3 linked regions of the Homo sapiens genome follow. The protein of the gene in region 2 purifies or fractionates together with the protein of the main gene of each other region. This does not show direct contact. Each region holds a gene or a part of one and is shown on either strand. Other genes may lie near its edges.

Region 1 (3,748 bases), on a different chromosome or scaffold from region 2:
TCCCACCATTCCCTAAATGCTAAAAGTAGTTCACTGCTCCTAGAGTGGCAAACAACGTGGTTTATGCCAATGCCTTGCTTTCCTTCTGGGACTCTGGAATTCCGGCACGTGCTATGCACAGGGTGCCTGCATGACAAGTCCCCAGTGAAAACCTTGGGCCCTGTGTCTCTGAGGAGCTTCCCTGGTACGGAGCATTGCACACGTGTTGTCACAGCCTGATGCTGGAGGAATTAACTGCATCCTGCACGGCTGCACTGGGTGAGGACTCGGGAAGCTTGCCCCGGTTTCCTCTAGGCTCCACCCCACATCTTTTCCCTTGGCTGTTTTTGCTTTGTACATTTTCACCGTAGTCCTGATTCCTCCTAGCAAGTCACTGGAACTGGGAGTGGTCTGCGGAACCCCTGAACAGACCTTAATACATGAAGAGCTTCTAAAAATGAAGAAGCAAAAGACCAAAACCCCAGAGAAAAGTTAGAGAAATGAAGAGACCGAAAAAAATAAATGCGAAGATTATCATAATCATGAAAGTGGGTTGTTAAAATATGAAGTTCAGCCTTCTCTCGTGCTCACAATCTCACCCACTCTTGCCCTTCCTTCTTCCGCCATGGGATGACACAGCACGCAGGGCCTCATTAGATGCTGGCACCATGCTCTAAGACTCTGCAGCCTCCAGAACTGTGAGCCAAATAAACTTTTTTTTTTCTTTTTTTAAGGTGTGCACTTTTACTGAACTGGTCTCAAGTCAGTGTACAGGTATGCCCTGGATGCCTCCACACTTCCACCCACTCCCAGGGAGACCAAAAGCCTTCATACATCTCAAGGTAGGGACAAAAATGGGGACCATGATAGCTGATTATTCAAAATAAAACAAAAAGTATTAAGGTGAAGATTTTTTTAAATGTTGCATTACATAATTTACATGAAAGCAATCCTGTAACCTCCCCTTTGTGGACTCAGGAGAGAACTGGGCCGTTCTCCTGAGAGAAGTGGGGTGGCTTTTGGGAGGGCAAGGGACTTCCTGTAACAATGCATCTCACAATATGTGGAATGACTATTTAAAAAAAAAAAAAAAAAGCCAGGCGCAGTGGCTCATGGCTGTAATCTCAGCACTTTGGGAGGCCCAGGCAGGCAGATCACCTGAGGTCAGGAGTTCAAGACTGGCCTGACCAACATGGAGAAACCCCGTCTCTATTAAAAATACAAAATTAGCCGGGCATAGTGGCGCATGCCTGTAATCCCAGCTACTTGGGAGGCTGAGGCAGGAGAATCACTTGAACCCGGGAGGCGGAGGTTGTGGTGAGCCAAGATCGCGCCATTCTACTCCAGCCTGAACAATGAAAGCAAAACTCTGTCTCCGGAAAAAAAAAAAAAAAAAAAAAAGGGCCAGGGTAAGACCCAGTCTCAAAACAAAAATAAAAATAAATAAGTAAAATAAAGAACAATGTACAATCAAGGTCCTCGGCCACACTGTAGAACTTTGGAGGATGCTCACTCCAACTAACTGCTGTCACCTTCACCATTCTATTCTTTTCTTTATAAATTACCCGGTGTGTGGTATTCTGTTACAGCAACACAAAACAAAGACATTAAGATATCATTTATTCTAGGTTGGTAATTTTACAAATTGGCAATAGGCTCTATTGGTGAGTCTGTAAGACACAGGCATCCTCACACATTACTGGTGAGAATGCACACTAATGAGTGTAATTTGACACTGCCTAGCAAAATTACATATGCATTTGCCCTTTGACCCAGAAATCCCATTTCTAAAAATCTAAGCCACAGATACTCAGGCAAAAAATACAAAAAGATATCCTTGCTTTATTTTTTCTTTTTTTTTTTTTTTGAGATGGAGTCTCGCTGTTGCCAGGCTGGAGTGCAGTGGCGCGATCTCAGCTCACTGCAACCTCCGCCTCCTGGTTCAAGCGATCCTCCTGCCTCAGCCTCCTGAGTAGCTAGGACTACTAAAATTAGCCCACCAGTGTGCCCGGCTAATTTTTTTGTATTTCTTTTTTTTTTTAGTAGAGACGGGGTTTCACCGTGTTAGCCAGGATGGTCTCGATCTCCTGACCACGGGTCGTGATCCACATCCTCGGCCTCCCAAAGTGCTGGGACTACAGGTGTGAGCCACTGCGCCTGGCCAGAATGCTCAAAAAATGAAGACATGTCTAAAGAACATGGAAGGCCAGGTGCAGTGCCTCACTCCTGTAATCCCAACACCTTGGGAGGCAGAGGTGGGCAGATCACCTGAGGTTAGGAGTTCAAGACCAGCCTGGCCAACATGACAAAACCCCATCTCTACTAAAAATACAAAAAAACAGCCATGCGTGGTGGTGTACACCTATAATCCCAGCTACTCAGGAGGCTGGGGCAGGAGAATCGCTTGAACCCGGGAGGCAGAGGTTGTAGTGAGCTGAAGTCACACCACTGCACTTCAGCCTGGGCAACACAGCAAGACTCCGTCTCAAAAAATAAATAAATAAAAAATAAAGAACATGGGAGTCAGCCTGAATGAGCTTCACTTGGCAAAATCTGGGACAATTTAAGCAATAGATAACCCACTGACAACAATGAGGACGGCATAATGGATTATCATTCTTTGAACAGAACGACAACTCATACAGACAATAAACAAATGAGGCCTATGGATAAGTTCTTCCTTAAAATAAAATGTTAACTAATAAATGGAGACAGAATAATAGAGTTCAAAAATCACCATTTTGCAACCATCACCATAATTAGTAATTCAGGCAAGAATCACCAATGGGCCAGGCACAGTGGCTCACGCCTGTAATCACAGCACTTTGGGAGGCCAAGGCGGGTGGATTGCTTGAGATCAGGATTCAAGACCAGCTTGGGCAACATGATGAAATCCCGTCTCTACCAAAAATACAAAAAGTTAGCCGGGCATGGTGGCTCATGCCTGTAATCCCAGCTACCCATGAGGCTGAAGCAGGAGAATTCCCTGAACCTGGGAGACAGAGGTTGCAGTGAGCAGAGATTGTGCCACTGCACTCCAGCCTAGGAAACAGAACAAGATTCTGTCAAAAAAAAAGAAAAAAACAAGAGTCACCAATGGATACTTAAACTAATGGATGAAAGTTTAAGAATAGAGTACTTACATAAAATATTCCCCCACAAATGACTTTTTTTTTTTTTTTTTTTTTTTTTTTTTTGAGATGGAGTCTCGCTCTGTCACCAGGCTGGAGTGCAGTGGCCCGATCTCGGCTCACTGCAACTTCCGCCTCTCGGATTCAAGTGATTCTCCTGAGCAGCCTCCAAAGCAGCTGGGACTACAGGCACGCACCACCACACCCAGCTAATTTTTGTATTTTTAGTAGAGACGGGGTTTCACCATGTTGGCCAGGTTGGTCTCGAACTCCTGCCCTCAGGTGATCCGCCCGCCTCGGCCTCCCAAAGTGCTGGGATTACAGGCATGAGCCACCGCGCCCAGCCAAATGACTTATTAATTACAAAGAAAAATAGTAACTGAACAGTGAAGAAACCTCGTGGACATCACCCTCTCCAAATGATCCAAGTGAACTTCATCAAGACTGAGGCGAGTCCCTATCTTAAGCCTTTCGATGGGATGCACTAAGAAGGATCAACAGGACTTCTGTGGTAGTCCTGACAAATATGCATATCCTGTATCTATCACAGAGAAACACTAGGTAACAACTGGCTGTCAAAAATGCCAACATCTTGAAAGACAAAAAAAGGTTAAGAAATTATTCCAGATTAAATTAGA
Region 2 (3,748 bases):
AGAGAGAGTGTAAAGCCCTAGGCGTACCACACCCACTAAAACTTTGCCTCAAGAGTACTGAGTGCTGGGCCAGGTGTGGTGGCTCATGTCTGTTATCCCAACACTTTGGGAGGCTGAGGTGGGAGGATCACTTGAGTCCAGGAGTTCGAGACCAGCCTGGACAACATGGTGAAATCCCGTCTCTACAAAAATACAAAAATTAGCCAGCTGTGATGGTGCATGCCTGTGGTCCCAGCTACTTGGGGGGCTGAGATGGGAGGATTGCTTGAGCCCAGGAGGTTGAGCCTGGCTGGGGATCACAGAGTACTGGGCTGGGCGCGGTGGCTCACTCCTTAATCCCAACACTTTGGGAAGCTGAGGTAGGTGGATCACGAGGTCAGCAGTTCAAGACCAGCCTGGCCAATATGGTGAAACCCTGTCTCTATTAAAAATACAAATAAATTAGTGGGGCTTAGTGGCGCACGCCTGTAGTCCCAGCTACTTGGGAGGCTGAGGCAAGAGAATTGCTTGAACCCAGGAGGCAGAGGTCGTAGTGAACTAAGATTGTGCCTCTGCACTCCAGCCTGTGCTTCAAGAGCGAAACTCTGTATCAAAAAACAAAAAACAAAAACAAAACAACAAAACAAAACAACAACAGTACTGGGGTGCTGGCAAATAACACTGGCTGTGAGGGAGGCTTATGACCTCAAGACTTTTAGTTCAACTGGTACAAAAGACAGCAGATGGGAGGCCGAGGTGGGTGGACTGCCTGAGCTCACGAGTTCTAGACCAGCCTGGGCAACATGGTGAAACCCCATCTCTACTAAAATACAAAAAATTAGCCGGGCGTGGTGGTGTGCACCTGCAGTCCCAGCTAGTTGGGAGGCAGAGGCTGCAGTGAGCTGAGATCGCGCCACTGCACTCCAGCCTGGGCGACAGAGTGAGACTCTGTCTCCCCCAACACCCCCACCAAAAAACAAACAAACAAACAAAAACCAGCAAATGAACACTATTACCTTATCTTAAGGACAGGACTGCCTGAATTTCATCAGAAGAACCAAGGTCTGGCACCTTTCACAAAGATGGAACTCTCTAGGCTCTAGGCCATGCTCGCCTTTCCTGCATGCAGAGCCACACCCCTATTTAGGGCTCTCCTCAAATTTTTTTTTTTTTTTTTGAGACTAAGTCTTACTCTGTCGCTCAGGCTGGAGTGCAGTGGCACAATCTTGGCTCACTGCGACCTCTGCCTCCTGGGCTCAAGCAATTCTCTGCCTCAGCCTCCCGAGTAGCCGGGACTACAGGCACCTGCCACCACGACCGGCTAATTTTTTTTGTATTTTTAGTAAAGATGGGGTTTCACCGTCTTGGCCAGGCTGGTCCTGAACTCCTGACCCTGTGATCCACCCATCTCAGCCTCCCAAAGTGCTGGGATTACAGGCGTGAGCCACAGCGCCCGTCACGGCTCTCCTCAATTCTATCCCTGATAAAGAGAACCTTCCTCTGCATGCAAACTTCCTGCTGAGAGTGGACCAGGAAAAAGAACACTTAGTGGGGTGGTTTCAGGCCTATTTACCCAATTAAAGGTCCCTAAGCAACTTACTCCATCTCTCCAGAAAGACCACCAAAAGCACAAGACTGACCTCATAACTCAGGCCCAAAAAGAACAGTCTCTTGGTAAACTTTGTTTATTTCCTAGCTGCCATTCTCATAGCTCACAAAGATACGGAAACAAGGAAACCCATCCTGGCCTATATGGCAGTGAGAACATGGAATCCCACCTTTGGTTTATCTACTTAGCCCTGCTGACCTCATATGTAGCCAGTGCCCAGATACATGGAGGACCAGGCCACCAGCGCCCACTGCTTCCTTCTCGGTGACTCAGGAGAGGAAGGTGGTCGCTGGGGTGCTGCCTAACTTACGTGATTGTTTTCATTTCTTTTTTCTCGGCATCTGGGCGTGCGCGGTTCAGCACCTTGAGGAAGTCAGACGTTTTCGCCCGCATACGTGTGTGAATATAGGCCTGGGAACAAACATAACAGGTACTAAAGCACAGTCATGGTCTAGAAAGACAGCTTTGCTGTCTTTCATCAGAGAGGTCATCAAGGGCGGTTGGGAACATACACCCTGGGATTGACCCAGGCCCTGCAGGGAAGCAGGAAGGTGAGCAATTCTGGAAACAAATATTCATCTCTGCTATAGGGAGGGATGGGGGACAGTGGCTTGATGAAGAAAGACCATGGTTTCTTGAAGCCTCTAGAATTATTTACCTAAGAGTCAATATCCACAGCGTAGACTAATGGAATGACTTTCTGTCAGGAGTTCTGGTGGAGGAAAAGACCCAGAGCATAGAGGCTGAGATGCTGGCACCCCCCTCACCTTAGAGCACTTGATGTGGTAGTGCAGGTAGTCCCGGAACGTGTGGATCAGGTTGATGGTGTTGTCTCGAGCACTGGCATTGGTGTGACGAGGGAACAGCACTGAAGGCGGAAGACACAAACAAGGCGTCAGGACACGACACAAATGCCAAAGGGTGGGGAAGAACAACAGCCTAGTGAACATCACTCCCTCTCTGCTTAAGTACACTCCACTTGTGTCAGTATTACCAGGCTTTGTCAGGGTTTTTTCTTGACATGGAAGTTAAACAGCATGGCCAGGAAAGGTGTCAACGAGCGTGAATGGAGGAGCCCACGATGAAAAACAGGGCTTGACCCTAGGCCTTCATTCTACTCCTGAATTCTGCAGCTGTGCATTTTGAAATCTATTTCCGGTCTGCCACACAGGTACTAGCTCTTGCCTCTGCAGCTGGACACACTCCAGGATCACACTAACTGGCTGTAACAGTTTACTTTAAGGAATCAGGATTAGGAAATGCAGCTGCCTGTCTTAGGTCCTTGGTGCTGAAATAGAGTAAACCTTCCCAGAAAACAGATGCCAGAGAATTTCCCATATTCTCACTGTGAAAACAGACAATAAGGTGTAAGGACCTGAACCCTCATGATAGGCCAGGCAGGAGGAGCTGCTCTGAATGGGCCTGACTGAAGTCCACCCTGTGACACCAGCCACCTAAAGACCTGTGTGAGGCTGGGCGCGATGGCTCACGCCTGTAATCCCAGCACTTTGGGAGGCTGACGCAGGCTGATCATCTGAGATCAGGAGTTTTGAGACCAGCCTGGCCAACATGGTGAAACCCCATCTCTACTAAAAATATAAAAATTAGCCACATGTGATGGCGTGTGCCTGTAATCTCAGCTACTTAGGAGGCTGAGGCAGGAGAATCGCTTAAACCCGGGGGGTGGAGGTTGCAGTGAGCCAAGACGGTGCCACTGCACTCCAGCCTGAGTGACAGAGCAAGACTCCATCTCAAAAAAAGACCTGTGTGCTCATCACAAAGTCCTTTGCACTACAGCAGGCCTGCATGCCCCTCTTGCCCTGGTTTTCTGGAATCGTTTTTACCTGCTGCACCTCCTCTACTCACTATCTGCAAAACCCCGTCAGTTGTCTGAAGTTTTCGTTGAAATGAAAAGGAATGCCTCCTAAGGAAGTGTGGAATTTCTGTGTCAATGTGCCCTGGCCTGAAAGTAAATGAACACCACAACAGAAGACAACTATACTTCAAAGAATCTAAGGTGCTTATGACTGTAAGTCTGCCATAATTTTATGTACCACAAGAGAAACATGCTGCCAATTAAAGTGTGACATGCTATGAATTGTAAGATGCATCCCAGCTTCAAAGACAAAAACTTGAAAAAAATGGTATAGCTGGCTGGGC
Region 3 (3,748 bases), on a different chromosome or scaffold from region 2:
CAGGTGATCCACCTGTCTCGGCCTCCCAAAGTGTTGGGATTACAGGTGTGAACCACTGTACCTGGCCGGCATAGCTTAGTCTTAAATGAAAGTCTAGGCCGGGCGTGGTGGCTCACGTGGTGCACGCCTGTAATCCCAGCTACTCTGGAGGCTGAAGCAAGAGAATCGCTTGAACCCAGAGGCAGAGGTTGCAGTGAGCCGAGATCGGGCCATTGCACTCCAGCCTGGGTGACAAGAGGGAAACTCTGTCTAAAAAAAAAAAAAAAAAAAAAGGAAAGTCTAATGGTGCACAGTGCCTTTGCTGTTATATTTTTAAATGCTTAGAGTTAATGACTCTGCACATCTTTTTCGAACCTGAAGTCATTTGTGACTCTCTCTTACACGCCACATCTAGTCAACCAGTAAATTCCAGGTACTCTACCTTCAAAATTTACCCAACTTAAGGCCGGGTGAGGTGGCTCACGTCTGTAATCCTAGCACTTTGGGAGGCCAAGGCAGGTGGATCACCTGAGGTCAGGAGTTCGAGACCAGCCTGGCCAACATGGTGAAACCGTGTCTCTACTAAAAATACAAAAAAAATTAGCCGGGCATGGTGGCGGGTGCCTATAATCACAGCTATTCGGGAGGCTGAGGCAGGAGAATTGCTTCAACCCAGGGGGCAGAGGTTGCAGTGAGCCAAGATTGCGCCACTTCACTCAAGCCTGGGCGAAAGAGCAAAACTCCATCTCAAAAAAACAAAAAACAAAAAAAACAAAATTGGGACTGGGCGTGGTGGCTCACACCTGTAATCCCAGCACTTTGGGAGGCCAAGGCGGGCAGATCATGAGGTCACGAGTTCGAGACCAGCCTGACCAACATGGTGAAAACCTGTCTCTACTAAAAATATAAAAATTAGCCAGGCGTGGTGGTGTGCACCTGTACTCCCAGCTACTTGGGAGGCTGAGGCAGGAGAATCACTTGAACCCTGGAGGCGGAGGTTGCAGTGAGCTGAGGTTGGGCCACTGCACTCTAGCCTAGGCGACACAGTGAGACTCCCTCTTAAAAAAACAAAAAAACAGGTCAGGCGCAGTGGCTCACGTCTGTAATCCCAGCACTTTAGGAAGCCGACGCAGGTGGATCACCTGAGGTCAGGAGTTTGAAACCAGCCTGGCCCACATGGTGAAACCCTGTCTCTACTAAAAATACAAAAATTAGCCAGGTGTGGTGGCAGGTGCCGGTAATCCCAGCTACTCCAGAGGCTGAGGCAGGAGAATCACCTGAACCCTGGAGGTGGAGGGTGCAGTGAGCTGAGACTGTGCCACTGCACTCCAGCCTGGGCAACAGAGTGAGGCTCCATCTCAAAAAAAATGAATAAAATAAAACAAAATAAGAAATTGGTGGGGCACGGTGGCTCATGCCTGTAATCCCAGCACTTTGGGAGGCCGAGGTGGGCAGATCACCTGAGGTCAGGAGTTCAACACTAGGCCAGCCAACATGGAGAAACCCCGTTTCTACTAAAAATACAAAATTAGCCAGGCATGGTGGCGCATGCCTGTAATCCCAGCTACTCGGGAGGCTGAGGCAGAATTGCTTGAACCCGGGAGGCAGAGGTTGCGGTGAACTGAGATAGCCCCATTGCAGTCCAGCCTGGGCAATAAGAGCAAAACTCCGTCTCAAAAAAATTAAAAAAAAATTTACCCAGCTTGTTCCCACCATCCTCATTGGCCCCTGCCTGGTTGGGCTACCACTGTCTGTCCCCTGGATGGTTGCTGTCACCATCTAAATCACCTCTCTACTTTGGTTCTCGATCCCAGATGTGTTCTCAATACAGCTGCTTAGAAGGCCCTTTTCAAACAATTCAGACTTCTGATCTATTACTGTTCTGCTCAGAATTTCCAGGGCTGTCCCATTTGAATTAAGACTGAGTCCTTTCCTCGGCCTACAGAGCCCTACTCTCCTCCCAACCCCCACCTCATCTCTCTTCTGTTCCTGGCTGTTTCTCGAATATACTGAGCCCACCCCAACCTCTGAGCCTTCGCTTAGTTGCCTCCTTCATTTCCTTCCAGTCTCTGTCTAGTGTCACCTCCTCAGGGACACCTTTTTTTTTTTTTTTTTTGAGATGGTATCTCACTCCATCGCCCAGGCTGGAGTGCAATGGTGTGATCTCAGCTCACTGCAACCTCTGCCTCCTGGGTTCAAGCGATTCTCCCCGCTCAGCTTCCCGAGTAGCTGGGATTACAGGTGTGCGCCATCATGCCTAGCTAATTGTTGTGTTTTTGTAGAGATGGGTTTTCACCATGTTGGCCAGGCTGGTCTCGAATTCCTGACCTCAGGTGATCTGCCCCCTGGGCCTCCCAAAGTGCTGGGATTACAGGTGTGAGCCACTGCGCCCGGCCAGGACACCTCCTTTGATCACTTTATCTAAGGCACACTCAGGCACTGCATGGTTTTTTTCCCTCTCAACACTGTCAGCCCTGACATCGTATAATATGGATTTTTAAATTGTGTCTCCCTGGCTGGAATGAAAGTCCATGACCATGAGCTGGGACATTATTCCATTTACTAGTTTCTTTGGGGGCTGTTTCTTTACTTGTAAAATGGGCATTTCTGGGTTCAAGTTCCTTCTGACCAGGATGTTCTGGGGATATGAATTTCTGCTGTCTCGTGGCAGACCTGAATCACAAATATTTTTTCCCAGATATGGAACTGTATTGCAGGTGGGCTTTGCATGTTTCCAGGACCCCTGAGACTTTTCTTTTCTTTTCTTTTTTTTTTTTTTTTTTGAGACGGAGTTTTGCTCTTGTCGCTCAGGCTGGAGCGTAATGGCGCGATCTCAGCTCAGTGCAACCTCTACCTACCGGTTTCAAGCGATTCTCCTGCCTCAGCCTCCCGAGTAGCTGGGATTACAGGCATGCGCCAGCACGCCCGGCTAATTTTGTATTTCTAGTAGACACGGGGTTTCAGCATTTTGGTCAGGCTGGTCTCAAACTTCTGACCTCAGGTGATCCGCCCACCTCGGCTCCCAAAGTGCTGAGGATTACAGGCAGAGACTTCTTCACCACTAGTTTCCCACTATGGGAGTCTGTATCCTTACCACCGAAGATAAGGTTGCATCATAGTCTGGCAATATTTTTTTTATCTTTAGACACAGTTCAATGAGAGGTATTCGAAGCAGCAAAAATGAATCACATTCCAACTACTGACTTTTATTAAAAAGAGTACTATTAGATGAAAATAGTTTTCACACTATTATATAAAAAGACCCATTTTACTTACCCTAAGGCTAAGATCAATTAACAGAACCCCTGGGATAACAGCCCAGGCACCAAATCTGGCACCTCAGAGTCGTCCTTGACTTCCCTAAACCGCTTTCCCCCATCTCAGATTCTGAGAATTTGGTTTCTGTCAAGATGTGCCTCTCCAGCCAGGCCTCTCCTGCCAGGACGGTGGCCACAGGGCCATCTCCCTCTCCTGGCGCCCCCAACTGCCTGGCCAAGGTGACTGCTACACACGTGGGGTCGCAGAATCCCTCGAGTCACAACGTCTTCAACGTCTTGTCAGTCCCGTGATCGCACTAAACGTATTTAAAGCCCCCTACTCCTTTAAGAGGGTCACCTCTGTGTACAGGCGGCCTCCTCGTACTAAGTGTGGTGGCGTTCAAGGCTCCGAGACACAGGCGCCTCCCGCGCCACTCCCCGGGCACAGGAACTCCTACTCATCCCTCAGTCATCAGCTCGAAGGTTTCTTCTCCAAGAAGCCTGCCCGGCAC

What was found.
Region 1: the proteins of ARPC2 (region 2) and ACTR3B purify together in Homo sapiens (affinity purification with mass spectrometry; 7 studies listed by BioGRID and IntAct, with this or other methods). This does not show direct contact.
Region 3: the proteins of ARPC2 (region 2) and ARPC5L fractionate together in Homo sapiens (co-fractionation; 7 studies listed by BioGRID and IntAct, with this or other methods). This does not show direct contact.

Annotation. Positions count from the first base shown.
Region 1 is NC_000007.14:152,762,742-152,766,489, reverse strand, and holds part of ACTR3B (actin-related protein 3B), read right to left. Parts: intron 1-3,748. UniProt on the Homo sapiens protein: Plays a role in the organization of the actin cytoskeleton.
Region 2 is NC_000002.12:218,248,072-218,251,819, reverse strand, and holds part of ARPC2 (actin-related protein 2/3 complex subunit 2), read right to left. Parts: intron 2,457-3,748; coding exon 2,356-2,456; intron 2,000-2,355; coding exon 1,899-1,999; intron 1-1,898. UniProt on the Homo sapiens protein: Actin-binding component of the Arp2/3 complex, a multiprotein complex that mediates actin polymerization upon stimulation by nucleation-promoting factor (NPF).
Region 3 is NC_000009.12:124,865,065-124,868,812, forward strand, and holds part of ARPC5L (actin-related protein 2/3 complex subunit 5-like protein), read left to right. Parts: intron 1-3,363; 5' UTR 3,364-3,748. UniProt on the Homo sapiens protein: May function as component of the Arp2/3 complex which is involved in regulation of actin polymerization and together with an activating nucleation-promoting factor (NPF) mediates the formation of branched actin networks.